2 separate regions of the Homo sapiens genome follow, and region 2 is linked to region 1. Evidence: fine-mapped expression QTL. A gene starts in region 1. The other region holds a variant in brackets. All regions are shown on one strand. Distances are between the middles of the regions.

Evidence for each region. PIP is the estimated chance that this variant, and not a neighbour inherited with it, causes the effect.
Region 2: its variant is the best candidate, but not a certain one, in a credible set for the expression of OPN5 in prefrontal cortex (CommonMind, PIP 0.58).

The regions. Positions count from the first base shown.
Region 1 is chr6:47,775,500-47,787,688 of GRCh38, reverse strand. OPN5 (opsin 5) reads right to left here and starts at 5,657. Exons shown (of 7, transcript NM_181744.4): 1 at 5,493-5,657; 2 at 1,055-1,174. The coding sequence starts at 5,622.
Region 2 is chr6:47,876,792-47,888,980 of GRCh38, reverse strand. It overlaps PTCHD4 (patched domain containing 4), which reads left to right. Exons shown (of 5, transcript NM_001384253.1): 5 at 9,045-12,189. The coding sequence ends at 10,678. Among named protein-coding and RNA genes, the nearest start is that of OPN5, 100 kb to the right of the region's middle. The variant G/T (reference allele first, on the strand shown) is at 5,750.

The sequences.
Region 1 (12,189 bases):
CTCAAACTTTATACCCATCTCAGCCTCCCAAAGCTTTGGGATTACAGGTGCAAGCCACTGTGCCCAGACACGAAATATTTTTTAAAGGAGGCTTTTGACGGGAAACTACTAACAAGTTTCTAATGGTAAGAGGAGCTGCTGTGTACTGTTCAAACAAATTACCCTACTCTAATGACCTAAAACCATAAGCTAAATAGCAGATGTTGGGATTCAAAGACAGATTAGAGTCCATCTAAGCAACTCTGAAGTTGTATAGAAGAAAGTGAAGAATGATTTACTTAAAATGGTTCATATTTTTTAAATTGAATTATAGTGAAGGAGAAATTTTTTTCCAACTCCTTGCCATGTTATTAGAGAAGTGAAAAAGAAGCCAGTGGTTCTCAATTTTGGCCACACATTAACATACCTGTAGATTCTCATTTTAAATATCCTGATGCCCAGGTAACACTCTCAACGACTTAATTCAGAACTTCCCCAGATGATATTTTGTGAGTTGCATTTGAGGACCACTGAACCAGAAGCTTCCTATGCTTGTGATATGTCACTAAGTCATGATTACATATATCATCAGCAGGGCACCTCTTTCCTCTTCCTACATTCACCTCTCAACTGCCTTCAACTGTCTTCAACTGTCATTTACCCTTCAAGATTCCTTTGTTGATGTTTATTTTAATCAGACTTCCATAAGGGTTGAAGAGGTGTAAAGAAGCTTAAAATACTGACCTGGGATTTGCCTCCTGATTTCTGATTTCTGAATCATTTAGCCCACTACACTTTGAGACATCTGAGGTATCACATATTATTTCAAATTGTGCCTTCAGCATCTAACATGCCTGACACACAGAAAAGACTCAATAAATATTAAATGAATAATCTTGTCAGCCGGACAGCACCCCATTGACTTACCACAAAACTCTGAAAGTTGATTTGTGAAGCGAAGAGTGGAAGGAGATGTGAAGGGAAGAGATGTCAGGGGGTGACGTTTGAGACAGTGAGTACTTTAGAATGGGGAGTAGTTTAAACCCACAAAGAAAACACAGCATGGTTGTGTTACCTGAAATCCCCAGATCACAGACTGCTAAATTGATAGTCATTATTTCAGCGGGTCTCAGCTTCTTCTTTCGTCTAGAAGACATGTAAAGGACATATCCATTTCCAAATGTGGACAGAATCCCTACAAGGAAAAATAAAAATTCCAATCGTTAAAACTAAGATTTCGAGTTCACTCAGATATGAAACACTTCTCAACTTCAAAAATGGACACCATAGATTTAGAGGGTAGTGAGAGGACTCTAAATAAAAAAATCTAAATTAAGAAGATGAAATAAAAAGCATGAGTTGTGAGTGACAGGCCAATGGGGCAGGAGTCAGGGATTATAAGACTGAACTTACCCAGAAAAAGGCATCGCTAACTTCCCCGCGAGGCTCAGGAAAGTGTGGGAATCCCAATGGTCAGTTCTTGTCCTGGCCCCCAGAGTGGAGTACTTTCCTCAGCCATTTTTATAGATTATTGGCTTTATAGAACTCCCTCCCTCTGATCAGTAGGGTTAAACCCTTAGCTCTTGATAAATTCTGAAGATGAAGCCAACCAAAGAAGGTGCCTTCAGTATCACTGTCAACTCCTAAGGGAGCACCAGTGTTCAGGAGAGGCAGAGGCCAGGTATGACTGGCATAACTCCCTTCAAGAAAATGGACATCTCCCAGAGACGCCCCAGGACTTCCGCCTCTTTGGGAGACATGGACACTGAGTGTCTGGCAGATAGGACAGCCTTCAGCTGCTACTGGACTAGATATCAAGGGTAAGTGGGTGACAATCGAGAACCTGGGCACTGTCCCTCCCACCAAGGGGAGAGAAAGTGACCCTCAACCCACCGAACCTACCAACAATGCCATAAGTGTGTTCCCACTTTTTCATATCCTTTTATTAATGACTAGTTGCCTTTGGCATTACAATGAAACTGTTCGAAAGTTCTTACAAACCCAGTTTAAATCCAAAAAGACCCAATCCCTACTGACTTTATTTAAGAAAAGAATACACCTACTTCCATAGCTTAACATGTAGAGTAGATTTCTTCAGGAATTCTTGCTTCATAGTGTAGCTGTGTATAAATGAGAATCTGGTACAGCTGCCTTTAGTAGTAAGGAATAAGGAGAGTATTAACAGGAGAAACCCAGAGTTTTCTATTTTAATTTCTACTTCTCCACCACAATTCATTTTGGGGGCAAAGAAAGAAATGTGTGATTCAGCTGATGGTATGAAACCACCAGGAACTAACTGCATTGTGCTCTTAGGAAATTCTGACTCCCTGGAGTCAGTGCTGCTTAATGGTCCATTAAAACCTCTTTAGCTTTCATAAAGCAGAAGAAGAGAAAAATAAAAGAGATTACGGAGTTCCAGAGCAAACCAACTAAAATGAAACAGGTCTCACTCAAGGAAACCAGCTAGGAAAGCAAAATGTGAAAACGTGGCTTGAAAAAGTATAAACTTAATGCCACCTACTTTGTATCCAAAAAGAGTAAAAACAAGTATCCATTTTCGTTTGATACACAAGGCTCATTGAAACACCTTTCATCTGTCTACATCTCTTTTGAAAATATTTGTTTTCTTACTTTTCCTTCCTTAAATTTTCTTTACTGACCCTGCTTCATAAGGTTTCACCCAGTGCCCAAAGCATTATCAAAAAATAGTCACCTCTCTATTCATTGCATGTAAATTATTCTAACAAGCAATATATATATGTTATAGATGAGTGTCAGGAAAAAGCAAATTTATTCTTAATATTACTGAAAAGACAACCAGATTAAGAAGATAAAGACCAAAGTGGGGACACTTTTAGATTATCAAATCCTATATCATTTATGGATACAAAAATATCATATATATTAACTGTTAATAAACTCAGTATTTACAATAATAGTAAAAGTGTGGAAGGTAGAAAATGGGTTTGTAATTTATGTCTCCTGTATTTCAAACTCAGATTTATATTGTTATCTTTCCATTGTCTCTTAAGACTTCTAGTATTTAACAAAGCCCACCAAGAATGTTTATTCCACTCTGGCTCCTTAAAAGCAATCTGGACACACACATCTTGGCCAGGCGCGGTGGCTCACGCCTGTAATCCCAACACTTTGGGAGGCTGAGGTGGGCAAATCACTTGAGGCCAGGAGTTCAATACCAGCCTGGCCAACATGGCGAAACCCCGTCTCTACTAAAAAACACAAAAATTAGCCAAGCATGGTGGTGCACACCTGTAGCCCCAGCTACTCAGGAGGTTGAGGCACAAGAATTGCTTGAACTTGGGAGATGGAGGTTGCAGTGAGCCGAGATCGCACCACTGCACTCCAACCTGGGTGACAGAGTGAGACTCTATGTCCAAAAAAAAAAGGAATCTTGCAACATCTACACTAGCCTATTCTAGGAGAGTGAAAACCAGACACACGGCCAAGTCCAAGAAGTGGATCTAGGGTGAGTCCAAACCCCTCCAGTCGACCCCTCTCCTCACCCTGCGTGACTGTTCTCTAACATACCATTGGCTCCACCTCCTAGTGCCCTGATCCTCCTGAAGCTCCCCCTGTCCAGGGACTCTTTTTCAACCTGTTTTTCTGGCTCCATCTCAGCAAACCCACTGGAATATGATTGTGGACTTTCCTTCCAACTCCATGTGTATCAGGTGGGAAATTCTCCTGATTTCCTCACCCTGGTTGCAATCCTCCTGCAATCCTCCCTGCTTAAGATTGGGAATGGACTGATAGGCCTCTCTGTTTTGTGTTGTCTGGAGAGATTTGTCAGGTTATTGATGTTACTTTTTTAATTCATTCCTTGAAAGTGATGGAGCTATGCTAAATACAATTGATCAAGTTGCTTATTTTTCTGCCTTTTCTGTTAATTGAAAGTACTTAAGTTTAATAAAAATGCAATGTGGATTTTACAGAGATAAGACAGTTTCTGTTCCAGCAGAATGTTTGCCCATTTTATTCTCTGCTCTATTCCCAGCAACTTAAAACAGTGGCAAAGAGTGGGCGCTCAATATATATTTATGTTGAAAAGAGATGGGGACTCATTTATAAGAAACAGAATTTAAACTAGTAAAACACTAACAACAATAAAGACAAAGACCCAGGGAATCACTTTACAGCAGAATTTGGTTGAATCACATGAGTTCCTTTTGCCTCAAGTACTGACCATAGAGGGATATCAAGTATTTTCTAATGAGTTTTGCTACTTTCAGGAGGTTAAATGAAATTCTTAGCCAGTAATAAATAGATGAGAGAGGGAGAAAAAGAGAGAAAGGGAGGAAGGGAAGAAGGGTGGAAGAGAAAGATAGAAACAAAGAGAAAAGAGAGAGAGAGCAAGTTTGACCCAACATCTGAAAAAATTAAAGGCAAACAAACCTAAAGACATAACCCACCTTCACACTGGTCACCCAAAGTTAAAACAACAATTTTAAATTTAAGAAAAGTATGGTTTCTTTTCTTAAATTTAAATAGGTGGTTAAATTAAATCCTAACTGTCTAGATTAGTGCTATCCAGTATAAATGTAATGTAAGCCAGAAATGCGAGCCACATATGGATTCTAAAATTTTCTGGTAGCCACATTAAACAAAGTAAAAATTTACAAAGTAAAAATTTAATTTATAAATTTAAAATTTACAGTAAATTAATTTTAATAATATATTTTATTTAGCTTAACATACCTAAAATGTTGTATGTTCAACATGTATTTAATTTTTAAAAATTATTAATGAGATATTTTATACCACTTTTTGTTGTACTGAGCCTTCAGTATCTGGTGAGTATTTACACTACAGCAACTTTCAATTTGGAAAAGCCACATGTGGCTACTGAATGAATGAGATCATGCAGTCTAGAAGCAGGTGCACCCTTTCGTCAATTATGCACAAAAATCTTTTGACCCCGGACTTTCTTCCATTTATCACCAACACATTTTTCAACTGTCACCAAAATGGCTTAGCTATTTTGATGCGACTTTACTTTTAGGTGAAGTAAACTCAGTGTTTCTGCCATTACTATAGTACTATAGCACAATAGCACAATTGAGTTTTGCACAGTTGTGAGAACAGGAGACTGACCTAGATTATTTTTAAGGCCCATTCTCAACCTAAAACTTATGATTATGTCAAAAACATTATTTAAAAAGCACTCTGTTTAAATAAAATATCATTATCATTAATTTTGGTATTCAGAAAGTAAATCTACTCCCAAAGTAACCAAAATGAAATGGATAAATAATTTTGCTGTAAGAGTTCTTGGATTATCAATGGAATTTTATTCCTAATAATAATGATAATAAAGAGTCATTTCTAGGAAACATTTATTGAATGCCATAATGCCATTCCATCTTCTGCCTTTCCCCACTCTTCGCCTCCACTAAACTATCCACTTAAGTATCAGAATCCTTTCACAAAATTAACATATCAGCCCATGAATTTTCTAAATGCAGCCTTTGCACAGAAGAATTAAGGAAGCTTACCAATTATTGTTAGGTAAAAGCCAGCCACTAAATCCGCTTCCCAAGAAAGTTTGGAAGCAAAAGGATCCCCATCTCGAAGGTAATGGGGCAGGCGCTCGTCCTGAGGCAGGGCAGTGTGATTTAACGCCATTCTGTTCTCGAACCACGAGGGATCTGAAAAGCAAACCAGTAGAGATCTCAGCAGACCTGAATAAGCCAGCTTGAACCATTTCATAATCGTGGCTCCTGTTTTAAAACAAAAAGCAAGTTCCCAGGGTCATGCATGATTCTCTAATTAATAACTGGTAAAAATTTTAACATTTTTTTCAATGATCCAATTATGTCATTACTCAGTTATTCGGTTGGCAGATTATCCAAGCCTTCATTTTCTCCTCTGTTTTCTCATGCTACTCTTTGAGCCACTTCTTTTCTCCTTGGGGTGATTAAAAGGTTGAAGGCCAAACTGTGCAATTTACTGTTTCTTAGCAATTTTTGTAAAGGTCTGAGCAGGAAATGATATTGTATGGAGTGTGCACACATACACACACACACACTATATATATATAATTTATGTATATAAATTATATATAATATATAAAAAATTTACATATGTATATATATAACTTGTCAGAATATAGTATTTTTTGATTATCCAGATTTCCCAGAAAATCATTTCCATTGTACATTCAATGAGGTTTAGAGTTTTGTAAGGAAAGAAATAGAGCATTCAGTACAAAGGAACATGGACACTTAATTAATTGAAGCTAAGAGCTAGGTGATTGTCAAAGTGATCTTGAAATTTGGAGCTATTTAGAAAGGATTCAAGCTGGGTTGTAACTCACAGGCACATCCACAGGAAGGTTTGTTTCTCAAGTTTCCTAGAGCAGAAAGCAATTTCATTATTTCTCACCACTGCCCCAAATCCATACTTTCTATTTGCTCATTTATGCTTCTGGATGAAATCTTGAGCATTGAGGAATTTCTCAGATACACAGGTCTTAGTACTGTTTCTTTTGAATTGGAGTTTTAAAAGGTTTACACAAAGTCTTTGATGGGCTTTCTGCAAAAATAAAAGTCACATGATATCCCTCATCCTGAAACTTGGAGTCGTGTGTTGTTCTTCAGATAAAGTATGCTGCTGATGTTAAAACTTCCTTTGGAAGGGTCATTCCTTTGTCATGATTGTTCCTATTTGTTTTGAAAGGGGAAGAAATACTAGTGTGGCTGTTTCTCTTTTGAACTTGCCTATTTCAAATCGAACCAACAGATGTCACTGTTCAGCTCTCTAGGCAACAATTTCGGGCATTATATGAGACAGCAAGTGGAACACAGAGTTGTGTGCCCCACAGGCGGTGACAGGGTGATCGGCACATATCTAACCATGTAATTCACCTTCGCAAAAGACATGAATTTAACCCCTTTCTAACTGCCAACTTACAGCTTACAGAGGAAGGCTAGTGACCCTTTCAGTGGCCAGTTGGCTGAAACTACAGTCTCCTACACACAGTTTGAGGACAGTCATGTGCTAATGTTCATTCCAAATCCTTCTCCCTGAGATGGTTAGAAAGCTGTAGGAGAAATCTTTGGCTGCCAGATGCACCACATCCCAAGACCTACCCCAGGTGAAAGTTTATCTTTACCTTTCAAACTCCTGATTCCCCTTTGACTGCCTCTTGTTCTGGTAAACTCTCTCCTCCCCAAAGATTGCCCCCGCCCAACTGGCTGTCCAGTCCTGTCCTCCACCTTAGCTTCAGAATCATAAGATGAAGGTTGGAGTCCAGCTGTGATACCCACCCTCTGATCTTGAGCAAATCATTTAAACTTTCTGAACTGCAACCACTTCATCTGTAAAATGGGCAGTCTCCTTCTTACCTGTCACTCATGCTTGTTGTAGGAGCAATAGGATATCGGACTCGAAAGCATATTATGAATGGGGGGTCCTGTATATTTATTATATGCTGAGATGCTTACTTTTCCCAAACTTGCCTATCCATCAAGATATAGCTATTGTATAAGAGATTTCCTCAGGGTCCCATGCTGAATCAATGGATGCTTGTGTGTTAACTCAAGTATTCACTGAACATCTACTACAAACCCAGCATTATGAGGTAGGACAACAGAGGTTTACCATGTTATCTAGACTTAGGGAGGGTATCTATCATTTTCTGGACAGAGAAAAGATGCAACTAATGGTCAGAAAATATAATAATAATACAAGAATATAAAACAATAAAATGCTGCTTTACTTGGTTTTAGAGAATTTTTTTGAGATAGGGTCTCACTCTGTTGCCCAGGCTGGAGTGCAGCGATGTGATCAGTGCTCACTGCATCCTCGACCTCCTAGGCTCAGGTGATCCTCCCAACTTAGCCTCCCGACTAGCTGGGACCATGGCACACGCCACAACACCTAGCTAATTTTTTTTATTATTATTATTTGTAGAGACAGTATCTCTCTATGGTTCCCAGGCTGATCTCAAACTCCCGTCCTGGGGTCAAGGGCTCCTCCCACTTTAGCCTCCCAAAGTCCTGGGATTACAAGTGTGAGCCACTGAACCTGGCCTAGACAATAATTTTTAAAGCAAGGAAATAATACTATTTTCTGAGGAATTAACTAGACTGTGTGTGTAATATCAAGAAGTGTCCTTCCTATATCGAGAAGTACCCAGGCCTTGCACAGCCTAAGACTCGATATGTTAATAATGAAAATGATAACATAAAACTTCACTTGAGCCCCCAAGGGGCTTTAATAAGCAACGAAAACAGTAGAGAATATTTTCAGTAAGAAAATGACATGAGCTAAGATTTGGAGGAAAAAATGAACATAAAGTGTATAAGGGATGGAAAAAGAGTTGTTCCATGGGAACAGAGTTCATCATGGAGAGAAGTGGTAGCCATCTTGGCTTGGTAAAATGGGATCTTGTCCTGTAGAGCCTTGCCTGCCTGGCAGAAGAGTTGCTTTTGACATATCATAGGTGGACTTATTTTTTTTCTGACACTGATCAAAATTAATGCTATTGTTTAAGTTTGGAAATACAGTGTTTGAGAGTTTCTAGTTCTTTTCAAAGACACAACTTAGACACAACTCTTCCTGAGGAACACTGCGAGAAAGAGGCAGAGAATCCTAAATACATGGTTATTTGGGAATTCTTTTTTTTTCCACTCTTCTTTATACATTACAAACTCATTTTTCAACTTCACACTTTACACTTATTTTCCCCATATGTAATTTGTGTTCCATTTCTTCTCAGTCTATCCAAATTCCACTTGACCTTCAAGCTTTTATCCAAAGTCTACATCCTTCAGAATATAAAACTGGCTCCTTCAGTCACTACTAAAATACTCCTAGGAGAAATTAATCCACTTAATTTACCTAATTCTTCCTCTGGTTTACCTACACATGAGTAAAATAACTTTCAGTTCATAAAGAAATTAGAGGTACCAGTGCATAGTATGGGATCATTATCATTATTTTGTTGAGGTGCTATTTCATCATTGATACAGAATTATACTTTTTGCTGAAAACAGGCTATAGCAATGCAACCATCATAAATATTTTTGCAGAACACTAACTGTACTACTTAAAATAATAAATGCAACACATAGTCATGACTGAATTTGTTCAGAGATATGTTTTAGAGAGTTTCTTTTTCAGTATTGAATGTGCCTGAATTACCTCATTGTGTAAATAAAATAGTCATTTGTCGATTCCTTCCCTCTTTTACCTCCTGTATTTGAAGATTGCCTACCGCCCATAGTAGATAGATGCTGTCCTATCTACCTTCCCAGGTGGTCAGGGCCCTCAACACCACATCCCCCAGTTCCCTGGGATGGCATCCTATGATCAAACCAATGGTTCCCAATCAGCTGCATATCTGAATCTCTTATGTACTTATTTTTTATTTTTTGTATATTGTTATTGTTGTATTTTGTATTGTAGCTATTCTTTAGGTACTGTAGTCTGGGTACAACTTCCAGGGTCTATGATATTATTTCCAAGAGGATCAGTTTGTCGAATTTTGTAACCATGGAAGCTTGCCTTTCTTGCACAATATTTCATGGCACTATTGCTTGGGAAACAACATATGGGGGTTGGAGGAAAGTATCCTGTTTAAAAGTGGAGGAGAAACTAAATGACTTGTCAAAATTTCTGCTGAATTTATGATTCTGTGAAAGATATAAATGAAACTTCTTGGAGTAAGTTGTATGTGATTATTCATGTTAGCATAATCCTTTAAGCCATAAAATATACTCCACTGCTCTCACATCTGCTAATCAATGGTCTTTTGGACCATGAATAAATCTTCCTAAGACTGTTCTCATAACAGCTTATTATGGAAAAAGCTGAAAACATCTCCACTCTTCATCACCCATAAAAGTTTTAAATATCTTTTGAGTTACCAGAATTAGCCATTTAAAATCCTGTATTATTCCACAATGAAAAATTAAAGAATATCTTTAGATGTAGCCAGAAGTCCTCATGTCCAAATTGAATGGACTTACAAATAGGTATAAGCAAATACGGAAGAGAGAATGGCACAGGTTCCCCTCCTAACAGGAAATAAACACAAGTTCGTACCAAGAAACAGAGTCCAACTCTGTTAGACTCTATCTAGTCTTAAAATTATCTTCAAAAAATATTTGGCAATAAATTTCCCCTTGACCTGCTAAATTTTCCCTGGTTTAATGCAGGAAATACCAAAAAGCATGGGCAGTGTGGAGAGCCACTTATGCAAGGTGAAAGTGACCTGCCCAAAATGGTCTTCTCCACTGGCCTGCTCTGGCTTCTGAAACTTTTGCCATTTTTTGCCTGAAGCATCATCACCACGAAATTTCTTTCTAGGGATATACTATCTGAGAACATGAAATTTGAATCTACCGGAATCCATGAAAACTTCAACATAAAGTAGTTTCTGAAATTAGTTACTTGAAACCTAGTAGAAGCCAGCAGACCTCAAAATAGGTGTAAGATGGTGCAGAGTAAGTTGGAAACAAACATCGAAGGCCAGGAAATGTTCAGGAAGTTAACAAAGAAACACCCACGAACTAGAGAGATGTCCAAGAAAGGTAAGCAGATAATATTCAATATCTCGAGGTAAAATGTGCTCAGTGTTAAGCCTGATAAAATGTAAGTAAGGAAACATAGTTTATTAAAAATTCAGAAATCCTTTAGCTGGTTTACACAGGTCTTTAACAAGTGGGTGATTGCCCATTTCCACTACTGTTCAAAAGGATTACCCACAATAAGCCTACAGGAAAAAGGATTTGTGGTCAGATTCATTTTTATACCAACTTCAGAAATTTGTGCCAGCCTCTAGGCTGGTGTCTTATGATAAGGGACCAACAATTCAGGACTAAGCTTCTTTCACTCAACCCCAGCGAGCCAGCTGGCATGGGCCATGATTGTGTGCAGGGACGACCACAATGAAGACCAGCAAGTTTTCCCAGTCGTCCAGGGACAACCACACTGGAGACCAGTCAGTTTTCTTCCGTTACTCCTTCTGCATGCTAGCCTCTCTCCTGTCTCTATCGACCTTCGGATTTGACCTCCCCATTTGAGCACCACAGTGGTTTCAAGCACCTCCCCTTTCCTTTCCTATCAAAATCTTCTCTAAAAAAATGGAATTGATAAATCTTGTTGACATGGTATGACATTTATAATACATTTTATGGAAAAACACTAATTATCAAAGAGTTATGAAGCATTTTTAAGCGAGAGAAAACTATAGAGAAAGATACCTAGAAATATATATGCCAAAGTGTTAAAATATATTTTTATTATGTATAGTGTTAGCATGGTTATGATGTATAATGATGTTAGGAGTAATTCTTTCTTTACTTTTTATTTGGAGAGTGAGGATACTTGGTAATATAGCCACTTTTTTAATTGTTTAAAAATGGCATACTAATTTTGCAATATTGTCTATATTTTTAATAAAGAATTTGTTACAAATTATAACATTAGTGAAATTGCTACACCCATCCATTTATTCATTCATATATTTATTTACCACGGATTATGTGCAGGCGCCTACTCAGTCTATAAATTACTTCCCTTGGAAATTTGCCATTAATGAGATGCCTTACAGAAGCTGAAATTGAAGGTTTTTCTGCGAAAGACCTACTCACAGCCCTGAAGTCTCCCCACATAGGTAAGCAGCTCACATCTGTGCTCTAAGCATGTGCCAGCACTGCCTTGGATGTGTGTCAGCCAGAGGTCACACCTTAAGGATTTTCTTCCTAGTAATTGTGTCTCTTCTTGCTCATGAAGTATTCTATAAATTCAAAAAATTTAAGCTGTGCTCTTCATAATTATTTTTTTTCTGTGTCAGCATCTATATGTGCTTAACATGCAATAAGCCATAATGATACCAATAGTGATATGTCATAGATCAATTCTGTATTCCAGTGAAAAGATTTGGATTATTTTTACATCTATTATATAAGAATATAGTGTTTTTCTTTTATACATGAAAAGAAAAACCTGAAAGCACCTTGACATGCAAAGTAGCAATCAAGAAATAAAATCAATAGATTGGGGTCTCAAATACCCCAATCCAGGTCTCCAGAGGGGTAACCTTTACCTATTAGCTAGTGCTAATGAGATCCTTGCCTTCTCTACAGGGGAAATGTTCACAGCCACAAAGAAAACTAGTAATTAGCTGAGGTTTTCTGTCAAACAGAAATGCACATACGCTTTTCGGGCTTTTTCTGCCATGGT
Region 2 (12,189 bases), 100 kb before region 1:
GTCCTTTGTAGGGACATGGATGAAATTGGAAATCATCATTCTCAGTAAACTATCGCAAGAACAAAAAACCAAACACCGCATATTCTCACTCATAGGTGGGAATTGAACAATGAGATCACATGGACACAGGAAGGGGAATATCACACTCTGGGGACTGTTGTGGGGTGGGGGGAGGGGAGAGGGATAGCATTGGGAGATATACCTAATGCTAGATGACGAGTTAGTGGGTGCAGTGCACCAGCATGGCACATGTATACATATGTATCTAACCTGCACAATGTGCACATGTACCCTAAAACTTAAAGTATAATAATAATAAAACAAAAACAAAAACAAACAAACAAACAAAAAACTACAAAATAAATTGTCAAAATGACTGAATGCAAACTCTGGATGAGACTATATGTCTTTTATCTATACACTAAGATATATATATAAAATATACAACTGCTCTGAAAATTATACAATGAGAATCTGCTACTAAGTTTTATTTTTTCTTATTAGAGACCTAATAAAATCCTGTAACCTCCTGAGTGCTAAGGACTGAGTGTCTGTTCATGCTCATAATTATTTCCTCTTTTCTTTGCAATATTCTGCTCCTTTTCCCATCTACTCTTTTTTTTGGGGACTGAGTCTCGCGCTGTCGCCCAGGCTGGAGTGCAGTGGCGCTATCTTGGCTCACTGCAAGCTCCGCCTCTCGGGTTCACCCCATTCTCCTGCCTCAGCCTCCCAAGTAGCTGGGACTATAGGCGCCCACCACCACACCCGGCTAATTTTTTGTATTTTTAGTAGAGACGGGGTTTCACCATGTTAGCCAGGATGGTCTCGATCTCCTCACCTTGTGATCCACCTGCCTCGGCCTCCCAAAGTACTGGGATTACAGGCTTGATCCACCATGCCCGTCCCTACTCTCTGCTCTTTACTCTGACTCATTCTGTACTGGGATGGGAATATTTCAAGTGAAGTCACTTCTTGCTTAAGGACAAGATAAAGCGAGGCCCTCCCTCATTGAACAACATTATCAAAGGTTTCCAGGTAAAACCATCATACATGTCCCTGGCAGTAGCAGCTTAGAGAATTCCTGTTAAACACCCCCTACCCTTTGTGGGCTATATAAGAACCAAGAGGTAGAAGCTTTGGCCATTGTATAAATTGAGCAACCTTTGGGGCTTGATAATCATCTATTTACTTTAGATGATACTAAATTAGAAGCAGTCAGTATACAAATACACACTGATCATCACCTCAAGACTAGACATTATGGGGATTAGAAAATATCTAAAGAGTTCATCATCTCTCAGGCAAAAGGAGTGTCTTATGAACCTGTTTCTACCCTGTCAAAGAACAACATAGAACAAGTAATTTCATTTCATATTCCATTCTCTGTTAGATATCCATAATCCTGAACCAGCCAAATTAATGAATAATATGCTAATTTCCCAATTAGGTATAATTGACATCTATTTCCACCTCTGTCAATGTGAACTGAACAGAGGAGGAAATGGGAGAAAAATTCAGAATCACTGGGTGACACTCAGCAAGTTTCCTTCTCAGTAAAATGAGGCAAATAATATCTATTTCACAAAACCCATTGCTGAATATAGGGCTGTTAATAATAATTATTGTAAGAACTAATGATAAATAGTAACATTTATTATTATTAAAGTTATAATTTATATTTAATTCCTCAATAAATTTTATAAGTTATATAAAATAATTCTATTAAAAATGTATAGAGTAAATTACATAAAATATATTAAATATAAATTAATATATTTATATAGATTATACCTATTATTGTTAATCTAGTAAGTATCATTACAATAATAACTATTACAAGAAGAATGTGTTCAAATATCTTTAAAATTTCTACATGTAGATCATGGCCAATTCAGTTTTAAAAACATTTATTGAGCATTTACCATAAGCCAATAATTAATATACAAAAGTGAAAAAGGCAAGTGCCTAACCTGGCCAGTGAAGAGTTTCTGGACTGGCTAAAAGATGGGCCCACCAACGGGCAATCTCAGTCTAGCGTATAGTAAGTACTGTGATTTGGGTTGGAATACAGGGCAGAGATGTCTAAGTTGGTGGAATGCGGGTGAGTAGGGCAAGCGGAAAGTGTTAGAGATCACGCATGTTCGAGTGGTGAGATTATGCTTGAGAACATGCTAAGTAGGAATCAGCCAGCTAAAGAGAAGGAACAATGGATAAATGATCCCACATAATGCCAAAGAAGTGAACAATAACTTAAAATACTGATGTATTATCCAGACTTTTTTGCATCTGCTTTGCTGGACTGAGTTTTCAGTTGATTGTGGTTTTATTTTTTTTATTCATTATTCATTCATTTAGTTGGCATTGGGATGTCACGATCGGGGGTGATTTTCACAAACACAATTATTGAAAGTGTAGCTAACCAAATGAAGAAATAACTTCTAAGGGAAAGTAGTAAGCTTTCTTTGGAACAGGTCATAAAAAGGAGTATTTTTTTTTAACCTCTATTTCTTACGTCTCTCATATCGGTGTCAAGCTTTCATATCTTGATTAGCATGTTCAAGTGAAAAGGAAAACCCACCAGTATGTCTTCTGAAGGCAAATGAGAATTCTAATTCTGCTGATTAAAATAAACTAGAAACCCACAGATCATGCTTATTAAAGCAACATAGCAAAGAAAAACTCAGTAGAGAGCATTAATTGAGTCAGTTACAATTAGTTCCAATTGAATTTCATCCTCGTTAAAAGTATTTTCTTTGGAATTGTAGGTTTTGGAGAGATTGAGTGTAGGATTAAAATGGCAACTGTAAAAATGATATTGGATTTATAGAACAACATTGCTCTGGGAAAAAAAAAAAAAAAAATCTTGCCATCGCCGTGGCTCGCGCCTATAATCCCAGCACTTTGGGAGGCCGAGGCGGGCAGATTACTTGAGGTCGGGAGTTTGAGACCAGCCTGGCCAATGTGGCAAAACCCATCTCTACTGAAAATACAAAAATCAGCCAGGTGTGGTGGCAGGTGCCTGTAATCTCAGTTACTCAGGAGGCTAAGGCTGGAGAATTACTTGAACCCGGGAGGCAGAGGTAGCAGGGAGCTGAGATCTCGCCACCGCACTATGGCCTGGGTGAAAGAGTGAGACTCCGTCTCAAAAAAAAGAAAAAAGAAAAACTTCTCTTTAGGCCTAACTACGTCACCAGAGAGTTTTCCTACAGCAATGTTAGATGCAATTACAATATGGAAGCTTACATTAGAAGAGTAGGAGTTTGGAAAAAATGTTCTTAAAGGAAGGCTGGAGCTGTTTCTCAGAGAAGAACCATCTTACTTTAGAAGTCATCTTTATTTGTTGGAGAATGATTACTAGAAGCTCAAACGGAATTATAACCAGTTCTGAGTGCTCCCCACCTCACTGAGGACTGGTATCAGTTTTGTTTGGTAACAATAATTTTTTTTTAATTTAAAAACACTTAAATATTCACTCTGGCAGACCTGCACGACCATGACCATGAAGAACCTTCATGATCTTTATCTTTTTCATGTGGCTCAATTGCAAATAGCAGAACTTACCAAATCATTGTTAAATGGGGGCATGTTAGCAAGCTGCCATGTAGGTTTTCCTTATTGTTACACCATGCTTCTAATTGCTTTCATTTGGAAAGAGAGCTCCCCATCAGCATCCCATCAGACTTGTGGAGTACTCAATACACACACACACCCCCTTATTATTTCTATTCATCTCCCTCCTTGAATTTTTCTCCCAGTTTTTCCTCTGTCCAACTCTTTTTTACCCTTAAGAACTCTCTCTTTTATTTCAAAAAACTGTGCTAAAGGAAATATTAGTCATCTAATAATGTCCCGAGTGAGTTACTTATTATATTAATCTAATGCAGTGTGCAAATATATACTAATGTAATTCAGGGAAATCATGACCAAAGTGTGGCAGTCAGATTTTGGAACATAAATCAAAAATATACTGTGGACAATAGTATACCAGCTCGCTATAGCAGTGAGCTAATCTCTACTGAGGGAAAAAAAATAACAATTATAAACTTTAAACACACAACTACCTCTTCATAGTTTACAGGGGTTTTTGTCTCTATTCATGTTATCCCATCAGCCTAAACTGTCATTAACATCATCCTCTGCCTAAACCTTTTGAAGCTTTCCCTGATCCCTCAGGAAGAATCAGCCGCATTTTCATGGTACACAGCATACAGCCCTACTTAGTAAGAACAAAATTCCTCTTTATATATTAGGTAACTGCATGTAAAACAAGTCCAGAACTTGAATGGAGTTGTTCTTAAAACAAGCAGTGGCCTCAGGTGAGAATTAAAGATTTTGGTGGGAAAATGGGACAGACTCAAAGAACAGTTAGGACTGGGTACTGGGAAATAATATAATGTAGTTCCAATCATCATTCAGTGGGGCATGTCACATTTATATGTGATCCATGCATCACCTGAATTGGTGGGCCACCAGTGTCTTTGGGGTGGACACTGGTGCATCAGTTTGAGGTGGATTACTTGAATTGGATTAAGAATCTCTGAGTAAGGGTGGAACTGCAGGGAATAAAATACTATTAGAAAAAGCTAAAGAGAAAATTGGGGCTTCTTTCAAGAGAGCAGATGCTCGAAAAATGGTTCCAGCCTCAGAATGGAAACCAAAGTGAAAAGTAAGAAACAAAGACAGAAAACACTGCAGAAATTGGAAAACAGACTCTCCATGGTTGATTGGCATCTGGACAGAGTTGCAAGAGTAATCCTAAATTCTAATTTTTGGTTGGTAGCAATCCAGTTCTTTGAATTAGTTATATAGGTAGTTACCTATCTGAACAGATGGGTAGATACATAAATGAATATATACATACATACATACACACACACACACACACACATACATACATAAGCTTGGAAGATAAATAAACAAATGACTGGAATAAATTCTTGAAGTTGTTAACAGCAGTTTTCTGTGTTACGGGATTCTGGAATAATTTGTTTCACCACTATTTTTCATCTTTCCCAAATTTTCCATGGAAATGTATCCTGATTTTATAATCAGAAACAGATAATTAAGTATGTGTGTGTATGAGTGAGTATATTATTTCTTTTTCTTTTGACTAAACCAATAATTTTCAATTGAAGCCAAATTTGCCCCACAGGCAACATTTGACAATGTCTGAAGAAATATTTGGTTGTTATAACTGTGGGGTGTGCATCTGGCATCTAGTGGGTAGTGGAATGGTGCTAAACATCCTCCAAAGTTCATGACAGTCCCCGACAATAAAGAATTATCCAGCCCAAAGTGTCAATAGTGCCCAGTTGGGAAACCCTGGATTAAACAAATAAAACTTTTATTAAACTTTTATCTCTCCATACAATTAATTCCATTGATACTATACACAGTTATTTCATATTAATTAATTAAAGTTATTTTAAAGTCTAAAATCCTAGTAATATCTAGCATTTTAATAAATATAGACATTCTAAATGCATTAGCAGGAACTTAAAATAAATAATTATGCTGTTTTCACAGTAGTATATTTTCTCATTATACGACAATAGAAGTAACATCTACAAAAAGAAAACTCACTCTGACATATTCTCTTCTTTATTCATGCTCTTGCTTCTTTATTTTTAGAGAAGTATTGATGGCTTTGTTACAAGTGCCAATATAATTTTTTAGGTATATATCCCTATTTTTAAAGCAGTTGCATTAGAAGCTATAATCTTGGTCTCAGAATTACTTAAGTGAAAAT[G/T]ACTTTCTGGACAGTTGTTGAAAAAGATTGTGTTCCTTGTTTACCCTTATATCTTATATATCGGCTAGCAAAAGTTATTATATAACAAACTCTAAATAAATATATATTGCATTGAATGAAAGTAAATAGTATATAGCTCTTCTGGATACAATCGATATTTATATAGGTACAAAGATGTATAATAAATTTTAGAATAAGTAATAAAAAGATCTATTTTTGGACCCATCTAGAATCAAGAATTATAGTTTATTTAATTCAAAAAGAAGTTAATGGGCATCTTTTGGGCATCTATCACTTTACCAGATGTCCTGCAGAGTATAAAAGTAAGATAAAATGCATTCCCTAGCCATGAAGAATTTGCAATCCAACCAAGAGATAGAACATATCTTGAGAAAACCATTTAATTCCAGAGCAAAACAGCACATGGTTGTGGGCCAAAATGAGTGACTAGTTAGGGCAATAAAAATTTAAGGAATATATATATATATATCACTGGAATCATTAGAAATGGATTCATAGCAAATAGGAGACTTTAACTGACCCTTAACAGACCAATGAATAGAATTTTAATATGACCAGAATTGAGGAAAGTATTTTAAGGGACAGAAAATAACATAAACAAAGCTAAGAAGATAAGACTAATGAGGAACATGCACACAGGGCAGTGAAAGAGTTACCTTGACTGGAGCAGGCAATACATTTGAACTGCTAGAAAATGGGCAGATTATTGTGACAGTCAAATGAGTGAATATCAGTAGGAAAATCCTATAAAATATCTAAACATATGAGTGGGATAAAACACGCCATCTCCAAACAAAGTTTGGAAATTGTATTTTCAGTCTCGACCACATTTAAAGTGATTACCTAATCTAATATGGTTTAGTATCATCTTCCTACACCTACAGGCCTTTGTACTACATAAAGCAAAAATCTGGCCTACATAGTGTACCTAATGTTCCATAAAAATGACCACTATCAAAGGCAAGCCAAATTTAGCTGTAGCTCTATGTAGCCTTTCCCCACCTTGTGACTACAAAGATAGCAGGAGTCCTCATTTCTGAAGAGAGATGCTCTCATTAAAGAATTATTTTAATTACCTTAACCCTTATTCTAACATTGTATTTTAGTCAAGGGAATAATAGAGCAAGTACTGTATTCTGTCTCTTCAAGGAGTTTTGCCGAAGATAGGAATGAACAATTAACATTGTTAAGAATCATTAGACTAAATGTAATACACATATGTTGAGCTCCTGATAAAATGCAAGAAGGAACAGTTCATGACCTCCAAATGAAAAAAACGTGCCTTTTCCTAAATGCAGTTTACACGAACCTTTCTACTTGTTATGATAAACTCATCTTTCCTGATTGGAGACCCGTAAGAGACAGCTTTGAAGAATAAATAGGCTTTACATTAGCGGTAAAAAGAATTCCAATGCCTAGCTTCCTTTAGTAGCTATTAATAATTGATAAAAACTACCAAAAGTTTGGCCAATGTGTCTTTAAAAATCAAATATTTGCATTATATACATTTAAGTCTGTAAATACTATAGTCAAATTAACTATGAAGCAAGAATTCTTAGATCATCTTAAAAGAGGTTTTGGTAAATGTTAACTGACCTAGGAAACATTGTTGGTTAGGAATGGATTCAGCTGCAAGTAACAGCGTTACCTACAATGGCTTAGCCAAGATTTGGTTTTCTTAGAAGAGAATTCCAAAAGGAGGCAGACAAGATCTCATCCCAGTGGCTTCATTATACTATTTCAAACAAAATGCCCTCTGGTTTTCTAACAAGCATCCTTAGATGACCTTCAGTTACATTGCATTGTCCAGAACTATGTCACATGAAACACCTCTAGTTGAAAACTAGGCTGGGAAATAATATTTTCAAGTATGTACATTGTAGTCTCAAATAAAAGAAAGGGAGGAATTATACAGGTCAGTTAGCAAAAGCTATCGGCAATGCAATTTCAGAGCAATTGCAGTAAGACCCCAGCTATCACATCTTTGTTAAAGCACTACTAAGTAAATTAAGTTTGTAACACCTAACTCCAATATCTAAGTGCCACATTTAAGTCCTTTTTCCAGGTTTTCATAAACTAGTTGATTTTGTGCCTTTCAGCTATGTCTTTGTCTAATGGATTCCTTGGAGAACAGCCCAAGCACAGCTTGTATCCATTCACAGAAAAGGTTCCTATGTAGTATTGCTATGCCCACAAGGGCAAGAGTGATCTATGAAGATTTCCACTCACTCAGAAAGCTACCAATTGATATATTATGGATGGTCATTGACAGGTCCAATTCAGGGAAGTGAAAAAAGGGGAAATTGCAGATATAGTATAATACCTTTGTTTACTCAGCTGCTTTCTCCTTTTGCTAGTAAAAAAGTGGTAGTATCTTAAGAGCTATGAAATTCCTCAAAATTACAGCTCAGTAGCTACCAGAGTCTGGCATACACTGGGTGTTCAAGTAATATGTGTTGACTAAGCCTTTTGCCTACTTACTCTTATCAAAAGGGACACAAACATTGGTTTAAAACAAGTATTCTTCATTCACTTTAACGAAGCAGTCAAAAGCATTTAGTCAGCATCCATCTCACGTGAATCAGAGCTCTATGAGGAGCCCAAAGGAAGTGCTTGCTAAGATTTTTCACCCCGAAGGTCTTGCCCTGTCTTTTATGTGACGTGGCAGATTTTTTTTTTAAAAACTCACATCCGGAGCTAATTAATCAACTCTTTGGAAATTGGTTTCTAAGCCATTTGGCCACCAAGGAGATTATCAACATTATAAAATCAGTTTAGAGCCATTTTTAAGTGTTTAACATACTTTTATAATTTCCTAAATCAGCATATAAATCAGCTTGAAACAAAAGTTAGGAACTGTCAGTCAATGAATCAGTTAACCAAGCACTTGACATGATGTTAAGGGTCATTTGAAGGCGCACAAATAACGGCCCCTGCCGTTGACAAAACTGTCTATTTAGGAAGACAATATGTGTTCAGGGGAAAAACATCATGTAATAACGTAACATTATATTTACAACTTGTCACATTGATAGAACAGACAATACATGTTTCATTTTTCCCAGAATATCAATAAATTTGGGCTTTGCTAAAGTGAAACAGGGACCAAATGTATCCTGTCCATAACTCAACTTTTGAGGCCCTGATAGGAGGATCACAGCCCTTTGAAGATTAGAGTATAAAGTGCCATTTAGCATAGATAAACTATAAGGAATTCACTTGAGCCATAGGAGGAAATAAAAATAATTATTATTTTCTTTTTTTAAAACATTAGGTCATGGAACTAAAGGAGTGTTTGAGCTTCTGTCCGGATGGCGGAGAACCAAAGAGAACTTGCCCTTCAAAGACAGGATAGCAGATGCCTATTCTGATGTGATGGTCACCTATACCATGACCAGCTCCCTGTACTTCATCACTTTTGGCATGGGTGCCAGCCCATTCACAAACATAGAGGCTGTGAAGGTCTTCTGTCAAAACATGTGTGTCTCTATTCTGTTGAACTACTTCTACATTTTCTCCTTCTTTGGCTCCTGTCTGGTCTTTGCTGGCCAACTAGAGCAAAACCGCTACCACAGCATCTTTTGCTGTAAGATCCCTTCTGCAGAATACCTGGATCGCAAACCTGTGTGGTTCCAGACAGTGATGAGTGATGGGCATCAACAGACGTCCCATCATGAGACGAACCCCTACCAGCACCACTTCATTCAGCACTTCCTCCGTGAACATTATAATGAATGGATTACCAATATATATGTGAAGCCATTTGTTGTCATCCTCTATCTCATTTATGCCTCCTTCTCCTTCATGGGGTGCTTACAGATCAGTGACGGAGCCAACATCATCAATCTACTAGCCAGTGATTCGCCAAGTGTTTCCTATGCCATGGTTCAGCAGAAATATTTCAGCAACTATAGCCCTGTGATAGGATTCTACGTCTATGAGCCCCTAGAGTACTGGAACAGCAGCGTCCAGGATGACCTAAGAAGACTCTGTAGTGGATTCACTGCAGTGTCCTGGGTGGAGCAGTACTACCAGTTCCTGAAAGTCAGCAACGTCAGTGCCAATAACAAAAGTGACTTCATCAGTGTCCTGCAAAGCTCATTTTTAAAAAAGCCAGAATTCCAGCATTTTCGAAATGATATCATCTTCTCCAAGGCAGGGGATGAAAGCAATATCATTGCTTCTCGCTTGTATCTGGTGGCCAGGACTAGCAGAGACAAGCAGAAAGAAATCACAGAAGTGTTGGAAAAGCTGAGGCCCCTATCCCTCTCAAAGAGCATCCGATTCATCGTGTTCAACCCCTCCTTTGTCTTCATGGACCATTACAGCTTGTCTGTCACAGTGCCTGTTCTGATTGCAGGCTTTGGTGTTCTCCTGGTGTTAATCCTGACTTTTTTCCTAGTGATCCACCCTCTGGGAAACTTCTGGCTAATTCTTAGCGTCACCTCAATTGAGCTGGGCGTTCTGGGCTTAATGACATTATGGAACGTCGACATGGATTGCATTTCTATCTTGTGCCTTATCTACACCTTGAATTTCGCCATTGACCACTGTGCACCACTGCTTTTCACATTTGTATTAGCAACTGAGCACACCCGAACACAATGTATAAAAAGCTCCTTGCAAGACCATGGGACAGCCATTTTGCAAAATGTTACTTCTTTTCTTATTGGGTTAGTCCCCCTTCTATTTGTGCCTTCGAACCTGACCTTCACACTGTTCAAATGCTTGCTGCTCACTGGGGGTTGCACACTTCTGCACTGTTTTGTTATTTTACCTGTGTTCCTAACGTTTTTCCCCCCTTCCAAAAAGCACCACAAGAAAAAGAAACGTGCCAAGCGAAAGGAGAGAGAGGAAATTGAATGCATAGAAATTCAAGAGAACCCGGATCACGTCACCACAGTATGAGGGGTATAGACCAGTGGATTATTTTTCTTTTCCAGTATTGCACAATGATGCAGGGCAAGTAAAGCTCAGACCTCAGCTGCTTGGGCTGGCCAGGGGTAACAAGGCAAGTCAGATCAAGAGTGCATTATTCATGACACTTCAAGGTGCCTGCTTCTTGGGGGGAAGAGGGAATAAAAAAAGAGGAAAAAGTTATTTGCAACCTTGTTCTCCTCTAAAAACAAGTTTCTGGATGTAATCTGAGAGCTCTTCCAAGGAATGGATGAATCAATGGAGTGTTAAGATAGAAGGCCAAAATAACCAGCTTCTTTTAAAAATAAAATGCTTAGGAGTGATGGAGAAGCAAGGAAAGGTGTCCTTCAAATAGGGGGAAAGACATGGGAAATGTGCCATGGCACTTTTCATGCTTGTTTTTTGAACAGGTTGGTCAAAGGAAACCTATGCACTTGGGAAGTACATATTTAATACTGTCTAAACCAAAGGACTTCCCAATCCATTTTATGTGTACATATATATGTATATATCCCGTATATACATATACTTAGTTTTGTCTTTAGGGTACATTGACGTTTATGTGGAGGGAGCTGTCCATTTGAAGATAGGCTGGCTTTTCCCTAGAAAGTCAAATCAACCTTAGCCAAATTTATAGATTCATTAATAGCCGTTCTAAATCAACCCAAGTGTCTCAGCAGTCAGTGTGTCATTCAACTGTGGGATGAGCAAAATAAACAGAGATGTGAGTTCATTAGATTATGCATATCATGTCAGCAGTCATCTAGACTTTTGCTTTGGATGACTTCACAAGAAAACACAAAAGGCATTTGAATTAATTACCACATGGACAAGGTTTACTGTTTCATATTAGAAATAAACAGTTGATATGGATTTTCGTTGGCTTTTACTGTATTTGGAAGACTGATATGGCTGCTTTCAGTGAGCTCACCCAATTGCAAATGAGCGCTTTACACAGATTATCCATACATGAGTCTAAGGGTGCACAAGTATGTGTATGTGAGTTGGGGTACTCCATAGTTACACCGTTCTTATTTTAGATAGGGAAAATAACTGTCATGGAATATAGATAATTAACATAGGAGAAAGGAGACATAACTAGGAAACTCGTAGAGTGAAATAGAATAAAATGGACCATACCCACTCATCACATGCCATCTACTAGTTCTTAGCATAAGGAAACTATTCTAATCCTATAAACTCTAGTGTATTCCTTGCATTAGTATTTGGAACATAACCCAGGCCATGATCACTATAGTAGTGTTCACTACACCTACTGCAGTACCATTTGTAGCTTCTCACAATAGTGTTGCTCTTGTTACCTGGAAAGTGCTCCTCGGTTGGCCCACCTCCTAGGGTGATCGCAGCTCTCCACAGGTGGGATATTAACTATAACTGCTGCTGAATTCTTTCTCAAACAAAAGTACTGAGGTAAATGTTTTCATTAAGTTAAAGTTTAAAACTACTCCCAAGCACCTGTTGGGTGCTTACTTGGACTATTG